2 separate regions of the Homo sapiens genome follow, and region 1 is linked to region 2. A link means that fine-mapping ties the variant in region 2 to the expression of a gene that starts in the linked region. Tissue or cell type: lung. Region 2 holds a variant in brackets; the other region holds the start of a gene. All regions are shown on one strand. Distances are between the middles of the regions.

Region 1 (8,228 bases), 990 kb before region 2:
AGGTTAATATTTAGCCTTTTCTTAGAAACTTCACTTTATTCATAACATTTCAGTGTAGAGCAAGTTAATGGCCAAACAATTGCAAGAAACAAATCCACAGTCAAGGGCTGGTATGTATTTGTAGCTGGATGCATATGTCTATAGCTGTGAGGTATGTAAATAGAACGGATACAGTTTGTGGATGCTCTTTGTGTGCACTTACAGAGAGGACAGAACAGCGAGATGAATGCTGGAGATAAGGTAGAGGATGCAAAGGATGGAGATATTTTTCCATGTGGAAGCATCTCATTCTTACAGACCTGATTGGTATAGCCTAGGGATCTCTGCAACGGGCTACACACACTGATCCAGTTACAAAGTAATACTCCAAAATGGAAAGGTGTTTAACAAAAGCTTCCTATTTGTAATCAAAGCTTCCCTTTATCACTGAGCATGCCCAGCAGTCAGCTTAGAAGCAGAGCTGGACAAAATGCAGTTTTTACTTTACCGTGGCTTGTAGCCACTGCTGCTGCTGACAATGAGCAGGGAGGCAGTGAGGCATTGGGTTCCAGGTAAGGCCTGAAAAGGCAGAGGAACAGGGGCCTGAACAAAGGTGGAGCCTCGAGGAGAGGTAACAGGTGGGAGGAGTGGTGCAGAAGGCTTGCTTGGCTCTGGACAGCATGTCCTCTCTGAGTGAGGGTTCCCCCAGCCAGGATTTGCTGAAAATCTTGGAAAGCCCCAGTGCCATTTACAACATCCTGTACCACACGTCTGCAGTGAGAGATGCCTGGGTTTAGAATGTAGCTCTGCATTGTGACACTGGTTGTGACCTTGGTAAAATAACTTTAAGTCTTTGAATCTCAAATTCCTTATAAGATTTGATGAAGGGGAAAATGCACCGGCAGTATCTCTCCCTGGCAGTTAGATCCTCCGGCATTATCAAATACTATAGCATGGCTAAACTGCAACACCACACTGACATCACCTCGCCCCCATACCAACCTCCTCTGAAACGGTGAAGACAGACCTGGCCTCAAATCCTAACTCTGCTACTTACTAGCTGTAAGACCTTGGGCGAATTGCGTGTGTGTGTGTGTGTGTGTGTGTGTCTGTGTGTGTCTGTGTGTGTGTGTGTGTGTGTGTGTAAGAGAGGGGTTGAGAGAGGAACAGAGAGTGACTTTAGCTGGCAGATACTATGAGATAAAATGGGAAATTAAAGTAGACATATCACTGTACCCCTGGAGTTTATAGTCAGGTTTGTTGGGGAGTCTGTTTCATTGTCTGTAATTGGAAATAACCATGCTTAGCCAAAAGAATTGTTAAGGTTAAAATGAGAAAAAAAAATCTGAGCAAGTTGCCTAGCACATGGTGGGTGCCCATAGTAGATTAAGAATATCCTTGGCGAGGTGGCTAATGCCTGTAATTCCAGCAATTTGGGAGGCCGAGGCGGGTGGATCACTGAGGCCAGGAGTTCAAAATCAGCATGGCCAACATGGTGAAACCCCATCTCTACTAAAAATACAAAAATCCGCCGGGCGTGATGGTGCATGCCTGTAATCCCAGCTACTCCAGAGGCTGAGGCACGAGAATCACTTGAACCTGGGAGGCGGAGGTTGCAGTGAGTGAAGATCGTGCCACTGCACTCCAGCCTGGGCCACGGGGCAAGACCCTGTCTCAAAAAATTCTACTGCATGCCTCTTTAATTCTTACTATACTGAATGATTTATCTCTGTTACTTCTGTATTCCCCCATAATGCCATCCCCAGCATCTGTCTACCTTATTTCCCATGATCCCCTTTCATGTAGTCTGATTGGCTGTTGGACAACATGACAGGGGTTAGTCATGTGGACTGTAGCACCAGACAGACCTGCGTGGGAGTCCTTCTCTGCCAGTTATCCAGGTATGTGACCTTGGGCAAGCTACTTAATCTTACTCAGCCACATTTTACTCATCTGTGAATTGGGAATAAAAACAGCTCCCCTCTCCTAGGAATTATTATTCTTATTCCAAGAGTAGTTTGTGTGTGTGTGTGTGTGTGTGTGTGTGTGTGTGTGTGGTAGAGAGTGAGAGTGAGTTTAATTAAAAGAGACACATTCTTGCCCCCATGGAGTTTACAGTCTAGAGGGTTCATGTGTGTCTAGGAGACATACACTAGCTAAATCATAACACAAGTGGAAAACTGAAGCTACCACAAATTTTTTAAAGTTACATGATGCCTTGAACACCTGTAATAACCCAGAAAGATCTCACGACTTCCCTGAAGAAGTTGATGCTGGAAGAGATAGATGAAGGATAAATAGGAGTTTGCTAGATGAAGAGGGGAGAGAAATGCATTCCTAGCAAGCCCTCAGTAAATGCCCCTCATTAGCATTTTAAGCATATGATCACCGTCTTCTTGTTAGAATATAAGCCCAAAGAGTATAGAGATAATGCCCTTGTCATCCCGTCACCACTAGGATAGCACCTTGAAGGAAGTAAATGCTCAGTAAATATCCTTGAATGAGTGAATGTTACAAAATCAATGAATTTCTTGAATGAAATCAAAAGTAACTGCCATGGCCTCATCCCATGGCTTTATTCAGAAGGCAATTAAGGGAGATGCAAATTCTAGTAAAAAACAGCATAGACCTTGCAATAGGACAAACAGTGTCTTCATTCAGGGCCTGTCCCTTGAGGGAAGTGACACCACATCTCAGTCTCAGCCTCCTCATATGTAGAAGGGGGGTAGGATAGTTTCTTTACAGAGTTCCTTTAAAGATTAAGATGGCACCTAATTAAAGGATGAACAAGAGTATGTAATCAAGAGATAAGTATTATTAATATTAGTACTATGAAGACATTGGCAAATTTCAGGCATGCAGTTTTTCAAGGTTTGTAGGTTATTGAAGACAACAAGCCAGGTACAGCTTGAAGGCCAGAGGATGTTATCACCCAAACACCCACCAGGCCTTTACCTTGCTGTACTTGCCTAGCGTTCATCCACACTCCTCATCCTGTCTCCAGTGACTGAGGGCCAGACTGCAGGGTTTAGATTCTTGATGTATTGGGTATGATATACTAGCAGTTGGTAACATTCTGGGGCCTCGGTTTCCTCCTAGGGTGGATCATACAGTGTCTGAACAGGTTAAAATCAGATAATTCATAGGCAACACATTCCACAGAGCCTGCACAGAGCTGAACAAGCAATACTTGTTCAGCTGTTACTATTAAAACCACCAGGCCCTGCTGGATTTTCTGTTAATTACCCTGTAAACTGAAACAGCCTTTCCTGGGCTAAGAATTGTTTCTTTTCAAAGATTCCCTATATGAAAAAAAGAGAAGTAACTCCTCTCTGACGTCTGGAAATCTAGCTTCCCCATCACTACGTCCTTGGGTGCAGGTTCAGAGCCACCGGGCAGCCTAGATGAGGCAGGTGAGCAGCGGCTGAAGACTCTGGAACCTTTGCTTCTCTCTGGAAGCTGCAGAGCTCGGCTCTGCCCTGCTCTGCGTTCCTAACCCTGGAAGAAGCGGTCTGGGTGCAGCCAAGCACTGGACATGCTCGCGAGAGCCAGGGCAGGCTCGGGTCGTCCGCAGGACTCGAAGGCTTGCTGTGCTCTCCTGTTTGCAGAGACCTGGGTGTAGCTGTGGTGCATAGATGTGGTGCATCGGGTGCCGAGCGGATCCCTCGGTGCGTGCAGCTAGGGATCCAAGCCTCCTCAGGCTAACCCTAGAGCCGAACTGAACTCTGAGCCGCCCGGGGTTCGCGCGCTCAGTTCCTGGTCTTGGAAACGCCCAGCTGGGGTTCTCTCTGCAGACAAAGGGGTGCACGTGTCCCTAGCGCCCCTCTTTCTCAGCCGTGAGCCCCTCCCTGGCTGCGTACCCCGCAGCCACAGCAGCTGCAGCCCCAGCGCCACCACCCAACCCCGGCGGCCTGGGCCGGTGCGCGCTCTCGGGGCCCAGGGATTGGCTCGCACTCCCCATTCAGGGACCGCGAGGGCTAGCGGGCGGCGCACGGCGCTCTGTGTGTGTGTGTGTGTGTGTGTGTGTGTGTGTGTGTTTGTGTGTGCGCGCGCGCGCGTGTGTTGTGCGGCGCGCGGGCGAGCGCGTGTGTGCGCGCGAGAGCTCGCGTGCAGGAGTCACTGGGTGTGCGTGCGTGTGTTATGGGTTTGATTCCAGAGCAGGTTGCACATTGGTCCTGGGTGGCTCGCAGGCTCAGGTCGTGCTTGGGCGTCCTCCTCCTAATCGTTTCCGAAGTAGCAGCAGCAGCACCACCACCAGCAGCAGCAGCAGCAGCAGCAGCAGCAGCAGCAGCAGCAGCCGCCGCGGCAACATCGAGCTCAGCGGCACAGCAGGCAGAACTGTGCAGAAGCGAGCACCGTTTGGGGAGTCCGGGGGGCGGGTAAGAGGGAGGAGGGGGAAAGCCTGTCTTGGTCTTTGGGATTATTTTTTTTCCCCTTCTTTCCCTCTCTCTCTCTTTCTTGAGGGTGTGTGTTGCCCCCTCGAAGTGAAGGAATTTTGCTCCAAAGCGAGCTGGGACCGAAGACTCTAGGCTAAGTTATCTATGTAGATGGTGTCAGGGAGCGAAGCTACTGACCGAGCTGCTGGTAAATGTTTTTCACTTCTTACTCTTTAATGCTTAAGGCTTTTTTCCCCTTTTCTTTCTTTCTTGTTTCCTTTCTGTTGCTCCTCATTCTGCAATCGCTCCTGAATCAGCTGCAGTTCTCTTTCTCTCCTTGCGTTTGTGCAGTTTACAACTTGTTTCATGGTTTTCTATGTATTTTTTTTTCCTCCTTCATCCTCAGATGAATGCTGGAACATTTAAATTCGGCACTTCGGGAGGTCATCATTAGTTGCATGAGTTTCAGGGGGGGAGGGGAAAGATTGCTAGAGCAGACTGTTATTTCCCTGCAGAAGGACTGCCGGTTTCTCTCTAATGTTCATCGCAATTATAGGGATTTTTTTTTAGGATGCATTTTAACGTTGCATTGCTGTTTAAGGTTATCGTTCTCCAGGATTACAATGCATTTGACTCAGTTTTGACAGCATGAGAGATGCCAGTGATTCCAGAACTACTGTATGGTACATGCTGGCTAAAATATTCAAAATTGCAGGAGGAATCATTTGCATTCCAAAAGAGAATTTCTTTAAAAATGCCGTTTTGCATCACATTGCTACAGATTTGCAGGAGGCAATAATAGACACCACTACCCATGTTGCTTGCAAAAGATAATAAACATATAAGTGCTTTAGTGCATCACATACTGTCTTGGGCTCCAGTGATTGAGCTATTGCTAAATTTACTTAATAATAAATTTAGGGCTATGGAGAAAGAGGGAGATTGCTGGTACTGTTTTATTCAAAATTGTGAGACACGTACAGCAATATCTCTCTTAGATCTTACTTGAAGTGGCATCTTGTCAATGGAGGGGAGGGTTCTGCATACACATGGAATAAAATTATTTAAAATAGCCAGCATAATGAATGCAAATTGAACTCTAACTCTTTTCTTAAAAATAGAACTCACTCTGTAACTCTGGCTGCCGGGATCTGTTTTAAATATTATTTAAAAATTAATATACAACAGCTCTTTAATGCATTCATATCATTTAAAGTTCTTTGGAGGGTTCTTGATCATTACCATGTTTTATTTGTTTTGCTTTTTTCCTCTTAAGTTTTCAGTTCCAGTTGAGTAGAAAAACTGAAGGGCCAGTGAGTAAAGGCAAATCAGCAATTTAGAAAGGAATCAGTGTATAGTTGTAAAATTTCTGCTAAGCCATGGAAAAATGAACTAATATAATGGCAGCTTAAATGGAGGAAGGGGGCCTCTGTGGTACAGCAGGTTGCAGTTTCTGTACATGTATCATCATCCTGAGAAACCCTGAACTCTAAACTGAGATGAGGACATCCAGTTCAGGGATACTCTGAGACACATACATTCTACAGAGGGAAAATGTTGTTATTCAAGGAACCCTCCTTCTGCTAGGTGGTTGCCACATCATAGAGCAGCAACTTGTCTATGTGCCAAGAATACGTTTGCAATAATACTCTTAAACTTTGTTTAAATGTAAACTTAACTAATGTTGGAAGAACTACATGAAAAAGTGAAGGCTCTTCAGCCCCAAAAAACAAAACAAACTGTAAATTAACTCAACTAGTCAGATCTTCTTTTATGTAGAAAAAAACCTACTCTAAGGCACCATGCAAATTCACCTGTTCTGGGTCCCCTGTGTTGACAAAAGCCTTTCTTAAAATTGTGAACAGAATTCCTAAGACCTAAAGCTTATTTCTTCCTTTGTAGTCTGCTGAAAGTAATAAGGCATTTTATTTAGAATGAAAGCTCAGCTTATTCATGGGTCCCTTGAGATGGCAATATTGCTGTTTTAAAATATTTTCATGGACCTTTGAATGGACTGTTTTGATCAAGTTAGTGGGGGGAAAATCCAGCTTGCATTCATTAAGACCACAGTTGTCTTTGAGTGAAGCATTTGTTTGTCTAGGTACTAAAGAAAAATGATTTCATATAGTAAACTTCAATCCTAAGAACCCAAGGTACCTAAAGCGTCAGGTTCCCTCCTTCTAGGACCCAAACCAAAAAGCAATATACCCCATGCTGGGCAGCTGTATTATTTCTCTGGCATATTCCACACACATGTGTAGGAAAAGATAACTGACCAGGCTAAGGGCTTATTTTGCTAGGCTCGTGGGGCAAGATTTCTAATTGTTATGTAACATATTCAGATCATGAATTTATTTATGAAACATCAAAATTAGCTTCAGTTTCAGTATCTTCACTAGACTCGAAGACTATGAGTACGTTGATTTAAAGAACATTTTTTTCCTACTGAGGTTGTTTTTTTTACCCAGCCACCCCTCTGTCTACTTCTAGTTTCCTGGCAACTTCTGAAAAGCTCTGATAATTTGTGTTAAAATATTAAACATATCTACATTTTGGGTGTGATACCAGGTTAGATTACTATTCAAACAACTGGATTTGTATGACTCTTACATCGTTTGGTGTGGTATTGTGTTTGTGGCTTGTTGATGGGTTTATTATGATAATAATTATTAAGTTTGTTAATTAAATCTTAACTAAGCTTCTTTTAACTTTTTGTGCCTAGTGTTGATTTCAGGTTAATGTATGAAAATAATACTATCATCTTGATAGCCTTGCTGGTAACTTAGATAGTTTCATTTCAACTGGTCTTCTTGTTAAATTTCAGCATGGCATTGGACTTAACTGGGGAGAAGGTAACTTGGGGTGATGGCTATGTAGAAAGATAGGTATCCGAGACTGTTGATTCATGGAACTTGTCAATCACATTTGGCTGTATTGTTAGAGTTCCTACTTTCATTTTGATAAGAATGGAGGTTTCTCTGCATGTGTGAATCCTTTATTATGCTATAGCTACTGAATGTTTCTTAACATTAATTGCTATTTTTTCATTGTGCAATTGAAGGGAACTTTGAACTACTTGTGTGTTTTTAAGGAAAACCTGTTTGGCTAGTTTTTTTCATTGTTTTCTTTCTGTGCAGATTAATTTTGAGAAGTGATTTCTGGTGAAATATGGTCAAGGTCATTTCCAAGGGCCTTTTTGTCCCTTCCCACTTGAGAACTAAAACTTAAACAGAAAGACAGACTTAAAGAGGCACAACTTAGCATCACCCTACTTAGCTTGAAGGGGGCAACATGAAAAGCCTATGTTATTGTCTTTCATTACTTTGTGTAAAGCAACAGTTTTGTTCTTTGAACTGCTGGTTCCCAGTAGCCCTGATGTACTCACAAGGAGAAACCCCCCATTCTGCACTCATAGTATATACCACAGATTCCCAACCTTCAGGGAACATTGCAAGACATATATATATGTTTTTTTTGGGGGGGGGAGGAGACATGTCTTTTGATACATTCTCAGTAGTAGGGGACATAGCAGTATTTGATTAAGCATGATGTATTTTCTAACTACATAATACTCTGCTTTAAGTTTTGTGAAAGCAACAGTAATTTTATGAGTCTTATTTGCTGAGAGCAAATAGCAGTTTTGTCAAAGTATTCTTTGTACTTCTGGTTTATATTTTGCTTTAAAGAGGGAATGTTCACATTGTTCAGTACTATGCACTATCAGCAACAGACTTTTTAAAAATTATTTTGGGTTGTTTTCTCTCCTTAATAAACATAAACCACTACTTAACATAATTATTTTAGGTGTTTTAAGACTGTGTAATAAGAGGATAATATATCAGGTCCTGCTCATATTTCCAAAAGATTTCATAA
Region 2 (8,228 bases):
TCTCTGCATTGCTCTCTTGATGTCCCCATCAGTCTTAATGAAGCATGTTAGATCTTCTCTGAACTATGCTGCTTTTTTTTTTCTATGATGAGTACATTGGAGGGGCTGATTAAGGAGGCATAACCAGAAAATAGGACTGTTTGGAATTTAACAAAAGACAAACAAGCATATAAGGGAAGTTCTGCATCAATGTAAAATAAAAGAACAATGCATATAAATTTGTACTACCAAAAGCAGTCTATTCATGTATAAACCATAATATAATCCAACGAAAATCAAACATAAGGCAGAACTAACTGCAAGCAGTCTGTACTGTCTTTTCTTAAGTAGTGTGTTACAGAATCCCTCTACCCTCCACCTTCCTCCCAGCCTATTCACAGAAGGTTTTGAAACAAAGTCTACTTGCAATTCTTGTTCAATATCACCTATCTACTCCTTCCTCTGCTGAAAGTGACAAGGTGAGAAATCTTCCCGGTCGGCTGCTTCTTTGGGAGTTTCTAAAGTCAACTTCTCTTGTCTAAAACAGTAGAAAGTAGCTCAGTGACAGAACCTAACTTTTCTTCCTTTGTGTGTTTTGCTGAAGCAAGCGTCTCTCTTTGGATCTGTCTGAGCAGTAGATCACAAAAAAGAGTCCCTAAGCAGGACAAAACTTCTCTCTGAGTTCACTTTTGCCCTGACATACTAGAAGCCCTAATTTTAATCATCAAGATCCTCAAGCTGCAAAACGGTTTGCAATTTGCCTTTTTAAATGGTCATTCATTAATTATTCTAGAAATAGCTATGAGAACCTACCATGTGTCAGGCACTGAGGATCCGGCAAAGGAGAAAAACAAAACCTCTGTCCTTATGGAGATTCTAGGCTGGAAGCAGACAGAACATAAACAAATGTCCCTTACACCATGACAAATGCAGTAAGTGCCACAGACGGCTGAAGAAGCCAGACCCATAAGAAATGGACATTTAAGCTGAGCCCTTAAGGATGAGTAGGGGTTAATCAGGCTTAAAGAGTGCTCTAGATCACAAAAACAATGAGCCACTAGGGGCAGAAACACTAAGGTGCCAGAAAGAGAAAGCAAGAGAAAGCAAACTAGAAAGGTAGGCAAGGGCAAGATGGATCAAGGCTTTGGACCATGTTAAAGCTTTTGGACTCTACCTCGAGAACAATTAAAAGTCACTGAAGCTTTTTAAGCAGGAGAGCAAAATAATAAGATACACTCTGCTTTTTGCTTTTAATAATGATAGCTGCCCTATGATAAATGGATTGGGGGGCAGTTAGAGTGGAAAGTATGCAAGACTAAAGGTCCAGTTTGGAAAATAAAATAATAGTTAAGATAAAAAGTGGCATGCCTTTGATTAGGGAGTGGTGCTGAATATTCAAAGATGTGAGGTATAGTTTGAAGGTAGGATCAGTAGAAATTAATGATTGCTGGGATTTGAAGATGAAGGTTAGGATTCTTCAAGTTTTTGACTTAGATGTCTGGGTGAATAGCAATGTCATGTGCTGAAGAAGGAACAGGTTTTTGTGGCAGAAAACAAAAGTTCAGTTTTGGACATGTTACATTTATGAGGCAAGAGAATTGAGTGCAGTTATTGGCCAGACTTATTTTGATTCTAAAATAATATGTATAACACAGAAAATCATCCATTTACAGATAATAGCATATGTAGTATATCCAAAGCCCTCAGCAATTGATTTTTCTCTTTAAAAAATGTCTCTCCAGGCCAGATGCAGTGGTTCATACCTATAATCCCAGTAATCTGGGAGGTTGAGATGGAAGAATCTCTTGAGCCCAGGATGTGGAGGCTGCAGTAAGCTATGATCACACCCCTGCGCTCCATCCTGGGTGATAGCGTGAGATTCCATCTTAAAAAAAAAGAAAAAAAATTCTCTCCAGAAATTTGTTAAATTTATTTCACACAATCATATAGGCCTGTGAATACTAACTTTTCTTTGTCAAATACTTTTTGCTTGGCACTAAGCTTTACCTACAGGATCCCATTTAATCCCTTAAGCTCTTTGTTAGGTATATGTTACTATCCATATTTAAAATACAGGGAAACCAGGGCTGGGGGAATTAAGTTATTTACATGTCACCCATTAGTAAGTGACAGAGCTGAAATTTGAACCTGGGTTGACCTGACTTTAAATCCCATATTCTTAATGACCATATGATAATGCCTGGGGAACTAGGAAGGGCGGGGGCTGGAAAAAACTCTGTCTAGCCTGATGGCAAACAACAAATTAATTTGCTTAGGCCATGAAATGAAGTCAATGCATTACAAGTGGCATAAGGCGAGAAATGATCTATGGGATGAACTCCAGCCTGTTACTGGACATAGACTTAGTCATTGTCAAACTCATAAGCCAGGCCAGATGCAAGAGACCCTTCTCTGAAGCTCTGAGGAATTGGTGGCAACCCGGATGGTAAATCTGAGGCCTCACCACTCCATGGTGGTGGCAGCATAGCATATGATTTACGGGGAGAGGTTTTATGCCCTGCATATTATAAAATATGAGTGCAGATTGACAAGGGAGAATTAAGAAGCACAGCTACTTGTTTAGCTCTGCAACTCGTAGGATCTTTTTCATTCTAAACAGAGCTCTGCCAGATTGCTGGGAGAAAGCGCAACAGCCATGGGTGCCATGGCTGACCCTTGGGGCATCCCTTGAATATCATCCTTGTTCCTGTTAGCAGGAAGCATGACAAGTGCTCAGAAAAAGAATTGAGCATGTTGGGCTTGCTGAGTGGTATCTAAGGAATCTAATTTTGGTGTCAGAATTTTTAAAAACACACTTTTTGTCTTCAAGAAGAAGCAATCTTAGACTAATCTGGATGCCTTATTGGTAGTGCGTATTTGGAAATCGAGATTCAAGACCTTCAGTAAATGAGGCTTTCACAGAGAAGAAACAAGATTGTTGAAACATCTTCACCATGCTGAGTGCAAAGACTATTCCAAACTTGTTCTCAGATTGATTTTTCTACCTAAGGATTAATTTTCTGACAGAATCACTGACAAGCCTGATCTTTAGAATATTAAACCTAGGCAACCTGTTTGCTTTTTTGTTTGTTTTTTAATGTTTTCAAGTGAGGTTTAAAGGTAGGATTCATTCTGGGTGAACCAAATGCATCGAAGCACTTTCAAATCAATAGGCAGCTTGATTTCTCTGTATTGCAAAACATTATGCCCCCTCTAAATTCTCATCACAGGCAACATGGAAATTAATGAGACCTTTAGATTAGCCTTTCAAGCTCAGCCTTATTTTATAGCTTTACCTTGCCTTTTTGACACCACGATCTCGCCTGGCCACCAGCAGCATTTCATGTTGCAGTGCACTTTAATTTTGCAGTTTTCTTAGTCTTCCTTGGAAACTGGCAGCTTATTAATCTCAATAACTGAGCTGCTCAATAGGCAAGCTCACCAATGAGAGACCAGGCTGTGTCTTTTTTTTTTCTTGGCAGATGGAAACAAGGGGGTTGGTTGTTGGATGGAGGCAAGGGAGGTGGCAGAGAAAAAGCTGGTTAGGAGGGGCACCTCATCCCCCACATCACTTTCTGATAATTGGCAGGAAAATAAAGCAAGCCTAGTCTAATCCACTGCTCTGTAATTTATGGCTTGTGGTGTTAAACACACTCGAACCCATTAATAAGAAAATAAATAAAGTGTTGTGGCACGTGTGCAAATTACAAGGTGCATTAAGAAAGAAACAAGCATTACATCTTATTCAAGACCACTCCAGCCTATTCTTGGCATGGTCTGCAAACTTGGAAGCATCCTGGAAAGTGGAGGTACCTAAGGAGAAGCTGTCCTTTTTAAATTTGCCTGCCTCTACAAAATTAAAAACTTATTGAGGAATTGAACTTCTTATTGCAGGGTACCACAGCTAAGTCTCTAGGTAGAAAGAACTTAAAAAAAAGAAAAATAAAAATCCATCCCTCAGCAGCCTTTACCGTGGGGACCCAATTACAAATTGAGACCACCCTGTGGTCATGCATTGTAAGAGCAAGACTTTGCCCTGAGTCTGTGTAAATGTCGAAGACTCTGGGGTTAAGTTCACAGTTGAAAAAAGCCAAATATTTCCATCTCTGTCTGTGCTCTTTCACCCATTCAACTAATATCAACTGTCATTCCCTTGAGGCACTTCCTGAAGTCTTCCCAGAGGATATTTTATCTGGCTCAGACAGGGAGAAACTTGATGAAG[C/T]GCAAGTCCTTTCTAATTCTGGCTCCCTGATGATCCTTTTCTTTTCGCAGAAGCCAGATAAGGCATCCGCAGTCCTACCAGGCAGGGGAAGTAGGTCCTGCAACTTTTCTGAAGGCACCTTTGATTTATTAGTCTTGGCCTTATTTGCTTTTGTGAGTTGGAATCTTATGTCCCCAGACTTGCAAACCGTCACGAGATACTCAGCCATTCTGCTCAGCTGCAGCTGCATCCTTTAGATTTTATGGGAATGTTTAAAAAAACTTTTCCTACATTAGGTTTTTTTCTTTCAAAACCCACCAGACAATTTGGGGCCATTCTGTGAGTATTCTTTGCAAATACTCCTTTGAGAGGTCATGGCAAAGCGCTGCACAAAGGATCACCCTCAAAATCGTGTATTTTTCAAATCCCTTATTGAATCATTTCTTGCTCAAAATAACTGTTTAGGAGTGAGGAAATACCTCCAATTGCTGTCATTTGTACTTAAGCTGTGTATGCCTTATAGTTCAAAAGAGACTGAATACCAATTCTTTTCTATGTGTTAAATGGTACTGAAATCAGATTTCAATTTGCTAGAGCTTCAATTGCGAACCAGCATTCATGAGTCCATTTCTCAACAATTAATACTCCTGTAAAGGTATTGCACACCAATAATACGACCTTTAAATTTTTATTTTATTTTTTAATTATTTGAACAAAGGGTTAAAATCCCGCCCTAAAGGGAAGGTGGGAAATGTTGCTTTACTTAACACTGGTATGTTCTTAGATAAGAATTTTCGATGATCTTAGTGACTTTCTTATTTCTTATCAACGCAGATCCTCTCCACTATACTTGGGGACATGTAATGAGAAGGCACAGGGAGCTATTAGGCCCACTGAAGCATTTGGTGGGACTCTAAGGAGCTCTACTCTCCCCCATCCCCACTCTCACCAATTCAGGAAAATGAAGGAATAAATTTACAAGCCCCCTGTGCAAGGGGCGGTGCTATGCACATGTGCATTTTCTGGATGTTCTTGTACTCAGTCATCTTTTCCAGCTTCTAACTCTCAGAATCCATACAAGGAGACATTGTAGTTCTATTGACAATCTTTTCACTTCTTGGAAACCACGGACCACTCCTTTTGGTCTTTGTTTTTAGACATAATCATCTCTGAAATGCCGACTTTGTGCCCAGTAGGATACTAGGCACTTTACATCATGTTATCTGAATTAAAGCCCTTAGGGGAGAGATGTTGATAGGGTTTGGCTGTGTTGACACCCAAATCTCATCTTGAATTGTAGCTCCAACAATTCCCACGTGTTGTGGTAGGGACCTGCTGGTGGGAGTTAATTTAATCATGGGGGCGGGTCTTTCCCATGCTCTTCTCGTGGTAGTGAATAAGTCTCATGAGATCTGATGGTTTTATAAGGGGGAGTTTCCCTACACAAGCACTCTCTTTGCCTGCTGTCATCCATGTGAGACGTGACTTGCTCCTCCTTGCCTTCTGCCATGACTGTGAGGCCTCCTCAGCCATGTGGAACTGTAAGTCCATTAAACCTCTTTCTCTTTATAAATTACCCAGTCTCGGGTATGTCTTTATTAGCAGCGTAAGAACAGACCAATACAGATGTTCTTGTCCCCTTTCAACATATCAGGAAAATGAAACTTGAGAAAGTGGAGGATTTGGGACAGAGAGAAGATCCTGACAGAACAGGATTCAAGTAATACTTAAACTCAGGCTTTGGGAGTCTCTCAGCCTTGCACTTCTTTACTTTCTACCATCGCTGTTATGTAGGCCTCCTCTTGTGGGATTTTTATGGTAACTATATGCTATATTCTCAAAGCTTAGAAACCTAACAGAAAGTAAAGCACTTCTTGACATTTCAACAACACTCCCTTGATTGAGTCTCATGGAATCCAACTAGAGTCACATGCCCACAACTGACCCAAGCCTCAAGCCTGGAGTCTTGGCGAGCAGACCACATTAATTGGCCAGGCCTGGATCACGTGCCCATGTGGGGGCCTCATAGTGGAGAGGAAGGAGTGTGGCCCATAACCAAACATCGTGCTATTAGGAGACCCTGAAATGGAGGGCTGGCAGGCAAAAGCCACAGACCAACTCAGGCCACATTCAATGTTAATTTGGTCACAGCCCAGCTCATATTGCCTGATTGTAATGATTTTCTCCTCCAGGCAGACACAGTCCCGGCCAGGGTGGGGAAATTGCAGGACATTGAGTTATCTCACTTGCCAGAGCACAGAAGGGGGTTTACAGCTGATTCCAATAAGAAGTCGAAAAAATTAAGTTTCACTGACTAACTTCTGCCCCCTTCTGACTCATCACCCTCTCTGGTTGACTTCTCAAACGTCCCACGACTTTACTTTTGAGTTCACTGTGGCCACTTAATGCATTTTAACTTTTATTAGTCTCCTGACATCTCTTTTAAGCTATCATCTTCTTTCCTGCAAAAGTGCTTGGATTCCACATTTTCTAATTAAAACATGCTCATTTATTGTCTTACTAACCAGTGCTCTTTATGAGGGCTCATGATGAGAAAGTTAACTCAAAACATCTCGATGCATTTCCTCTCTCTTGGAAATGGCTGGAGAAGCAGTTTTGCCTTATCAAGTTGAATGACTTCGAAGAACTTTTGGTTTTGCTTTTTAATAAAACCATGAATGGGAAACATTTAACTCCATGCTTCAAGCTCCTAATATTCTCAGCAATGCAGTATATTCTGTTTGTTGTGGTGTGTGTAGGTGAGACAGATTGCAGGGGTCAGATAGCTCCATAATGAGTATAGGTAATATCAGAATAGTTCTGTGTTTAATTAGATAAAAATTTTTGTCCTAACATGCAACACGTCCTAATGTTCATAATGGTGCCCATTGCTGTTTATACTCCAGTGAATTAATCTGATATTATTAGAGGTTGTAAGCTTCAGTGCAGCAGGGGGTAAGGGTGGCACACATGCATTTAAACCCACCGAGAATTTCAATATAATCGTGTGTGTGGTGGCACTGGGGTGGGCTGGGAACAAGGTAGAAGGCGCATATTCAGTATATGTCTGCGTATACTTTGTTTTTTCAGTTTCACTACTATTTGCTTTGTCTTTGGAAACATAAAAGCAGTGTTACAATGGGGACATCCTCATGTCCTGTCGATAATGTGCATCTTCAAATTCATAATACCATTCAGTTTGGGGAAAAGAGCGAAGTATAGCATTCTTCACAGAGCTTACCCCAAATAGCTAATTCAGGCAGAAAGGGAGAGACAGAGATAGAGATAGAGATGATAGAGATAGAGACAGAGATAGAGATAAAGAGAGAGAGATGGAGATAGAGATAAAGGGAGGCAGAGAGAGAGAGAGAAAGAAAGGGGAAAAAGGGACCTGGTGATGCAGATATGGAAAAAAATAGATGCCCTCTTCAGGGAGGTCGGCCCTTGATTCTGACCACTACATTAGAAAATATTAGAAGGAGTCAAGGTCAACATGAATTGGGTTGGCCAAAACAACTGAGCCCAGCTGGACGCGGTGCCTCACACCTGTAATCCCAGAACTTTGGGAGGCCGAGGCAGGTGGATCACTTGAGGTCAGGAGTTCAAGACCAGCCTGACGAACATGGTGAAACTTCGTGTCTATTAAAAATACTAAAATTAGCCAGGCGTGGTGGTGCACGCCTATAATCCCAGCTACTTGGGAGGCTGAGGCAGGAGAATTGCTTGAACCTGGGAGGCGAAGGTTGCAGTGAGCCAAGATCGCGCCACTGCACTCCAGCCTGGGTGACAGAGTGAGACTCCATCTAAAACAAACAAACAAACAAAACAAAACAAAACAAAACAAAAACAAAAAAAACCCTGAGCCCTGATCATTTAAGTGAAGGGGTCATCATTTGGCTGCACAGAGGCAGAGTTTTCAAACTGGAAACCAAGTTAAGATCACCTAGTATAGTCCAATGTCTATTTTTACAGACAAGGAGAGTGAAGCTCAGAAAGTTCCACAACACGCCAGCGCCTTCCACTATAAATGCCGGAGTGGGGCTGGAAG

Alleles and levels. Positions count from the first base shown, and alleles are read on the strand shown. Sizes are in standard deviations (SD) of each study's normalised expression.
For the expression in lung of the gene that starts at base 4,069 in region 1, allele T in region 2 goes with a higher level than allele C (moderate effect, 0.66 SD a copy in GTEx).

What was found. PIP is the estimated chance that this variant, and not a neighbour inherited with it, causes the effect.
Region 1: TENM2 starts here. The variant in region 2 is fine-mapped to the expression of TENM2 in lung (GTEx, PIP 0.93).

Annotation. Positions count from the first base shown.
Region 1 is chr5:166,974,961-166,983,188 of GRCh38, forward strand. It overlaps TENM2 (teneurin transmembrane protein 2), which reads left to right and starts at 4,069. Exons shown (of 31, transcript NM_001395460.1): 1 at 4,069-4,563. RefSeq lists enhancers at 3,126-3,627, 3,628-4,127.
Region 2 is chr5:167,963,715-167,971,942 of GRCh38, forward strand. All of the region lies in intron 6 of TENM2 (teneurin transmembrane protein 2), which reads left to right. Among named protein-coding and RNA genes, the nearest start is that of TENM2-AS3, 14 kb to the left of the region's middle. The variant C/T (reference allele first, on the strand shown) is at 4,202.